Homo sapiens: one gene and its partner. The protein of the gene in region 1 purifies or fractionates together with the protein of each later gene. This does not show direct contact. Each region holds a gene or a part of one and is shown on either strand. Other genes may lie near its edges.

Region 1 (3,817 bases):
TTGAACTCCTGGGCTCAAGTGATCTGCTCACCTAGGCCTCTCAAAGCGCTGGGATTACAGGTATGAGCCACTGCACCCGGCCTCTATGTATAGTTTTAAGTCACATTATTTACTTGGAATAATAAGTGGCAGGAGAATTGTTCATACTTATGGGTAGATAATGCATAGGTAGATAAATATACAGAGAAAGAAAGATAAAGGAAGAGACATTTCCTTCCTTGTCCTAAAGCCACCTGTTTTGAAGTTGAAGTTACATCATTTTTTAATGTAGTGGAAGCAGTGTACTAGCAAGGAATAAACAAAAATGTTTATACTCTTTGACTTAACAATCCGTCTCTTAAGAATTTGCCTACTGAAACAATCACAGATGTCCATCCCTGAAAATGGCAGACCTTAACATGGTTTAGAAAAAGAATACCTGGCCAGGCGCGGTGGCTTACGCCTGTAATCCCAGCACTTTGGAAGGCCAAGGCGGGTGGATCACGAGGTCAGGAGATTGAGACCATCCTGGCTAACACTATGAAACCCCGTCTCTACTAAAAATACAAAAAATTAGCCGGGCTTGGTGGCGGGTGCCTGTAGTCCCAGCTACTCGGGAGGCTGAGGCAGGAGAATGGCATGAACCCGGGAGATGGAGCTTGCAGTGAGCCGAGATAGCACCACTGCAGTCCTGCCTGGGTGAAAGAGTGAGACTCCGTCTCAAAAAAAAAAAAAAAAAAAAAAAACTCATTAAAGAAATTACATTACTGCCAGTGAAGGAAAACCGCAAACATTAAAAATCAGGTTCAATAATGATACTAATGATGTAGGAAAGTGTTCATAGCATAGTAAGTGAAAGGAAAGTTATCAAATCTACAAATATTAATATTATTCCATAAAAGAAATACGCATGAGCTCCAAGTACTTGAAAGTGGAAGAGAAAACTGGAAAAACATATGCCAAAACATGGGTGGTGAGATGGTAGGTGATTTTACCTACATTTCTGCTTTTCAACTTTTCTTAAGGTGTATGTGTTCATTTTTAAATCAGAAAAAAAGAAATGATAATTATTTTAAGAGTTCTTTTTCCCAACCCATTTTTTTAAAATAAAATCTACTTGGAAAAACAATGAAAAGAAAGGGGAAACAGTAGGATGAACCAAATAACTCTATTGTGTTTCTCATAGCTTCGCTGATCCTGCAAGCTCCACTTTCTGTGTTTGAAGGAGACTCTGTGGTTCTGAGGTGCCGGGCAAAGGCGGAAGTAACACTGAATAATACTATTTACAAGAATGATAATGTCCTGGCATTCCTTAATAAAAGAACTGACTTCCATATTCCTCATGCATGTCTCAAGGACAATGGTGCATATCGCTGTACTGGATATAAGGAAAGTTGTTGCCCTGTTTCTTCCAATACAGTCAAAATCCAAGTCCAAGGTAAAGCCTTCATTATTTTGTGAAGTGAGTTGGTCAAAAGGAGATTCCTTGGGGTCATAGAGATAGAACAGGAGGAAAAGGGTGGACTGGAATACCACTAAACCACAGGACACATTCCTGCAAGGAGCAGAGGAAGTATAGTAGTGTTTTGGGCTGAAGGAAGCTAGGGATCAATGGCATTCCTTTCTTTGCCTGCTTTTGGATGTGCTGCTGCTTGAAGTGTGCTTTTCTCCAAAGCAGTTCCAGCCTCATTGCTCTGGGACTGTTGTGATTCTTCTCTCTAGAGCCATTTACACGTCCAGTGCTGAGAGCCAGCTCCTTCCAGCCCATCAGCGGGAACCCAGTGACCCTGACCTGTGAGACCCAGCTCTCTCTAGAGAGGTCAGATGTCCCGCTCCGGTTCCGCTTCTTCAGAGATGACCAGACCCTGGGATTAGGCTGGAGTCTCTCCCCGAATTTCCAGATTACTGCCATGTGGAGTAAAGATTCAGGGTTCTACTGGTGTAAGGCAGCAACAATGCCTTACAGCGTCATATCTGACAGCCCGAGATCCTGGATACAGGTGCAGAGTAAGTGTTGGTGGAACCTGAGATTTGCTGCAGAGAGGGCTGGAAAAGTGGGACAGGGCTGCATATCAGCGTGGGTCACCAGTCTCTGTAGAAAAAACTCGTACCTGTGAGAATGGGAGTTGTGCAAGCAAAGAGACCTCTACTCTTGTGAACATCTTAGAAGAGCTTAGACCCAGGAAAATCCAAGAAAAGAAAGGTCTAATTTTTTTTCTTTCAATGCCATTAAATACAATTCTTTCTTTTCTCTCGCAGGGTTCTCTTCCCTGACATCATTTTTTTTTCTTCTAGGCCCATAGGGATAAGCCATGGGCTGTGGCATAGCTCTCTGACTCTGGTGTACAGAGGTATCTGTTGTCCCAATTAACATTACTTATTGACAATAACCAAAGTGAAAATTTCTGTAGGATACAAAGACAGGTTGCAACATTATAGTTACTCCAAATATGTGACTCTGGAGGTTTACCATTCCCTAGTTATGAGTACAAATATGCACCCCAGATTACATCACCTCCCTTACTAGTATACAGCACCATCCTTCCTTCAAAGCTATTATGGTAGTTACAGTGATGAGGGAAAAACAGCTTCTGTAGAGCCCTGTGTCATCCCTCCACTCATGGCAAACTCCGGGCTCACTTATAAGGAGGCAATGTGATCATCACCAGACTAGGAGTCAGGACACCAACTCTGGCCCTGGCTGGCCCTGAAAACAGCCTACACAGGCAGGTCTCCTAGTCTCTCCTTGACTCAGTTTTCTCACCTGTAAATAAAGAAGGTCAGTCTGGGCCAAGGGAGAGAGTAGGAGCAGAAGAAAAAGCTCTAGAAGACTATGCTAATCTTTAAGGAAAAACTAGCAATGGCAAATAAATCCCTGAGGCCAATGCAAGTGAAGGAGAAATAAACAGGGATAGGAAAGAAGACTCAGAATAATTGGGCACTTCAGGTGCAACATTCCATAGTCATAGGGCAGAAGGAAGGAGCAAGAAGCAGGTGCAGGTAAGGGTGTGTGGTTCTGATGGCAGCAAGTTAAGGGTGGAGACTGGAGACTGGGCATTTGCACTGGCCATGCCTTGTAATCTACAGTAAGAGGCAAAAGCAATTCTTGACTAATTTTTTCTCTTGCTCAGTCCCTGCATCTCATCCTGTCCTCACTCTCAGCCCTGAAAAGGCTCTGAATTTTGAGGGAACCAAGGTGACACTTCACTGTGAAACCCAGGAAGATTCTCTGCGCACTTTGTACAGGTTTTATCATGAGGGTGTCCCCCTGAGGCACAAGTCAGTCCGCTGTGAAAGGGGAGCATCCATCAGCTTCTCACTGACTACAGAGAATTCAGGGAACTACTACTGCACAGCTGACAATGGCCTTGGCGCCAAGCCCAGTAAGGCTGTGAGCCTCTCAGTCACTGGTAAGCCCTGCATTCCTGCCAATCACCCACCCCTGGCCAAGAGTCCTGCCTCACCCTGCCCTTCGGAAGTCAGCATATACCTTCCAGTATCCTCAGTTTCTTTCTTGGGAAAACCTAATGTCCTCCTCCACTCTCCGGCTCACTGAACCAGCTGTCTGCCTCTTGAGTCTCGTTGCATTGCAGTCTAGGTGCCCTTATACCCCTGCCTGATGGTGCAGTGGCTTTCTATCCCCTGGTTCCCAATTTCTGAGAAGCCAAGTGCTTTTCTTGTGCTTTCCACTTGTCCTGTGGCTCCCCAGATGACTGATTTTCATTCACTATATTATTCTCAGTAGACACAGACTCAATTTCCAGGAGCACAGAGGTATCTCCTGTTCTGTTAATATCAGACATTAATCAATAAACCAAAGGCAAAGACATGTAAGACA
Region 2 (4,252 bases), on another chromosome or scaffold:
GCGCGATCTCGGCTCACTGCAAGTTCCGCTTCCCGGGTTCACGCCATTCTCCTGCCTCAGCCTCCCGAGTAGCTGGGACTACAGGTGCCCGCCACCATGCCCGGCTTTTTGTATTTTTAGTAGAGATGGGGTTTCACCGTGTTAGCCAGGATGGTCTCAATCTCCTGACCTTGTGATCCGCCCACCTTGGCCTCCCAAAGTGCTGGGATTACAGGCCTGAGCCACCTCGCCTGGCCTCAAACTGATTTTACGTGGTACAGTTGCTACCTTCTGCAGAAAGCCTTTCCTGACCTTCCTTACTTCCCCTACTCCAAATCTGGATAACTCTTGTTCCCACAGTAATCTGTGTAGTCATAAGACATAGCCCTGGTTTTTCCATGTTGTACAGTATGTATCTCTTTACTTCCCTAGTATATTGTGCACTTCCTGAGGGTGTTTCCTTAGCAAATTCCATCTTAAATAGATGAGGCAGAGCCATCCACAGCTTCACCTTTATCTGAAGTGGTAAAGTCCAAACTATATTTTCAATGTAAAATGTTCATTTAAGCCAGTCAAATCATTTTACTTTATATTAATATTTTCCATCTTGTTATACTAAAACAAAAACCCCAAACACAAAGGGAGCTCCTGAAATCTGCCTAGAGGAATTTTATTCTAATTAAACACACACACATACGTTTTTCTAAGTTCATTATAAAAGCAATGCTTTTGAACTTCCTAATAATGACTTTATTCACTATTTTACATTTGGCTCACTGCTAGAAGACAGTTACAAGCATAGAAAATGGACCCAAGGACAAACATTTACTTGGGAGGGAAATAACACAAAGAAGCATATCAATCGATGTCTTTGTCAGTCATTCTGTGACCAACCAGGAGCGGGGATGGCTTTGCTCTAGATTCTGGCAGCCAGTAGAAACCATCTCTAGAAACCATCTCATCTTTATCCATAATGGTAATAGAGCACAGTGTTCTCTAGACATGTAGATCTGCCACATGGCAAAGCTATATCATGATTTCTTCTTGCAGAGTGGGCAGTTTCAGCAGGACCTGTAAGTTTGCTTAGGTTTTCTGAAGATATCGGCATTAAAGACTTACACATTCCTTTTGTCCTCCTAACGTATTTCGTAACCACACTCTCAACATTCCAATAAGTTTTGAACTTGGAGGCACTTAGAACATAATTACATTTCTAATTTTGTTTCAGTTTGATATGTGTCCCTTCCTTCCTTTTTTTGGTAGAGACAGTGTCTCACTATGTTGACCAGGCTGGTCTTGAACACACCAGGCCTAAAGTGATCCTCCTGCCTCAGCCTTCCAAAATGCAAGGATTACAGGTGTGAGCCACTGTGCCTGGCCTATACTTCCTTTCTTAATCAACTTTGTTTTTATTTATTTATTTATTTATTTATTTATTTATTTATTTATTTATTGAGACAGGGTCTCGCTCTCTTGCCCTGGCTGGAGTACAGTAGTGCACTCTTGGCTCACTGTAGCCTCGACCTCCGGGGCTCAAGTGATCCTCCTGCCTTAGCCCCACAAGTAGTGGGACTATAGGCACACACCACCATGCCCATCTAAGTTTTTGTATTTTATGTAGAGACCAGGTTTCACCATGTTGCCCAGGCTGATCTTGACCTCCTGAGCTCAAGTGATCTGCCCACCTCGGACTCCCAAAATGCTGGGATTATAGGCGTAAACCACCATGCCTGGCCTTAAATCAACTTTAGAGTCAACATCTCTTATCACTGGAGCTTCTAGAGAAACTCCATCACGTGGTGCTCTCTTTCCTGATGTGTTGTGCCCAAATAGCTTGTTCTCATCAGATGACTTATTTGCTATGATATATATACTTCAAGAGCTGCTATATGTATTACATACATCAAATCTTTCTGTAAAGTTTGATTTTTGTTTCTTTAAAAGGAACATAAATGTTCCAGGACCAAGGGACACAAAGAGGTTTTAATTTTTAGTTCTGTAGCCTCATATATTTTAACAGAAATATAAAAACAGATAGTAGCAGTTTTCCAGTGGAGAAAACTTTCCAGATGTCTCCACTGTATCTCCTTTCTTTGCCTCTCCTTGAGAGAAGGCTGGAACTGATGGGTAAATTGGTTTTTTGCCCATCAGCCTATTCACATCTTTCCTTCCTTGTTCCCATCCTAGATTGTGGGGTTTTTTTTTGAAATCTGTTCCATTTCAGACATTTAAAGAACAGCCTTATCTAATCCTGCTCAAGCAAAATCTCAGAATCCTTAAATACAAAAGATCCTGTGTGGCCAGTCATATAGTTCATGGGAACTCTATGAACTTTGACCTAAGCTTTATCTCTGATTATATTTTGGCACTGCTGCCCCTTTACATTAACGCTGAAAAACAAAACAAAACTTAGCTAAGTTTTATGGCAAGTGGGGGCAGGGTCAGGTGAAGAGGTAGGAATTGCCTGAGGTTGGGGGTCCCTAAAACATAAAATAATCATCCAAAGCCCATTTTCCTCAAAGCTGGGGGTAATGGCCAAAGTATGTTCTCAAAGCATCATCTGCCCTGAGAAAGGGCAGCTACTCCTTCTACAGAGATCTCTGTGCACACTAATCTGTACTGTCTTCAGTACCTTGATGGCTGTTTGTGGTCATACACTCCGTGGACCAGTCTTGAGGGATCACAGGGCCAACCAGCTCAGCAAACCTCTCCAGAGGACAGCTGGGGCTGCAGCCAGGTAGCATGAGGGGATACGGCTCGTGCTGCGTCTCATTCCGATAGTACATCTCCACAAAGTACTCCCTGGCAGACAAAGGCAGAGGAGAGAGCTCTGTTAGTTCTGTGTTGTTGAACTGCCACTGAATTTCTTTCCACTTGGACTATTACATGCCAGTTGAGGGACTAATGGAAAAACTTATGGGGAGATTTTAGCCAATTTAGGTGTGTAAATGGGGAGACTGGGGCAGGCGGGAGAGATTTGCAGGGTGGAAATGGGAGGGCTGGTTTGTTAGATGAACAGGGACATAGGAGGTAGGCACCAGGATGCTAAATCAGAGGAGGTGGTGAGAAGTGATGGTTGCAGGGAGCTGGGTGGGACTTTGAGCCTTTGGATAAGAAGTGGGAGGCAGGTGGGGGTGTTGGGTTTTCCTTCTCCTCCTCCCTTCTTTTTAGGCTTCTCATTTGCTCCTTTTTTTCTTTTTCTGTTTTCCTACTTGAGTATTTCTTTCAGTCCTCTTTCTGAATGTATCTCCCCTCTCCTTAACTAGGCTATAAACATGGAACTGAATAATATATAACATATGTGCTTGAATATACAGCAAGACTTTATCAGAAAATTATCCCTCAGAACAAAGATGTGGGTATGTGTTCCAGTCCTTCCATTGTGTCACGTTAAGGAGAGCTCTCTCAATGCTTTATCTCAAAAAAACAATGTACTATTTGGGAAGGTCCAATGGTGTAAACTAACCTGAGTTAAACCAGCGTGAGTTGCTTATGGAAGCCATTTGCTAATCAAGGAGTCAGGAGGGGAACTCAAGAAGGATTTAGAGATCCTTCTTTTGGTGTAACCTTACAATGGCTACTTTTGGTTGTCATTATAAACAAGCCTTTTAAAACATCACTTTAAAAAGCCATATAAACATAGTAACAGCAAATATTCACTTATGTCTATAAGGCTGGGCGCAGTGGCTCACGCCTGTAATCCCAGCACTTTGGGAGGTCGAGGCGGGTGGATCACGAGGTCAGGAGATCGAGACCATCCTGGCTAACACGGTGAAACCCCGTCTCTACTAAAAATACAAAAATTAGCTGGGTGTGGTGGCACATGCCTATAGTCCCAGCTATTTGGGAGGCTGGGGCGGGAGAATCACTTGAACCTGGGAGGTGGAGGTTGCAGTTAGCCGAGATCACGCCACTACACTCTAGCCTGGGCAACAGAGCGAGACTCCATCTCAAAAATAAAATAAAATAAAATAAAAATAAAATAAAATAAAATAAAATAAGATAAAATAAAATAAGATGTCTATAAAACTTACAAAAACCTCCCTAATATGTATTATGAATGGGTACTTATATCTTGGAATAACTTTTTCAGTAACAGCATCTTCTGTCTTAAGATGATATGGCCTAGATGACCAATACTCCATCAAACTCTGTTATTCTCTTTCCATAGAATTGAATTATGGCTCAGAAGTGACCACATTGCCAAGACTACGTTGTACCTAGGTAGGACCAAGTCACTAATTTAGCCAGTAGAAAGTGAGCAGAAATGATA

The links.
Region 2: the proteins of FCRL5 (region 1) and ACP3 purify together in Homo sapiens (affinity purification with mass spectrometry; one large-scale study listed by BioGRID and IntAct). This does not show direct contact.

The regions. Positions count from the first base shown.
Region 1 is NC_000001.11:157,542,431-157,546,247, reverse strand, and holds part of FCRL5 (Fc receptor-like protein 5 isoform 1 precursor), read left to right. Parts: intron 1-1,165; coding exon 1,166-1,417; intron 1,418-1,701; coding exon 1,702-1,986; intron 1,987-3,110; coding exon 3,111-3,389; intron 3,390-3,817. UniProt on the Homo sapiens protein: Plays an important role in B-cell response to antigen that acts both as a negative or positive coreceptor.
Region 2 is NC_000003.12:132,355,215-132,359,466, reverse strand, and holds the end of ACP3 (prostatic acid phosphatase isoform PAP precursor), read right to left. Parts: intron 2,782-4,252; coding exon 2,589-2,781; 3' UTR 626-2,588; downstream 1-625. UniProt on the Homo sapiens protein: A non-specific tyrosine phosphatase that dephosphorylates a diverse number of substrates under acidic conditions (pH 4-6) including alkyl, aryl, and acyl orthophosphate monoesters and phosphorylated proteins.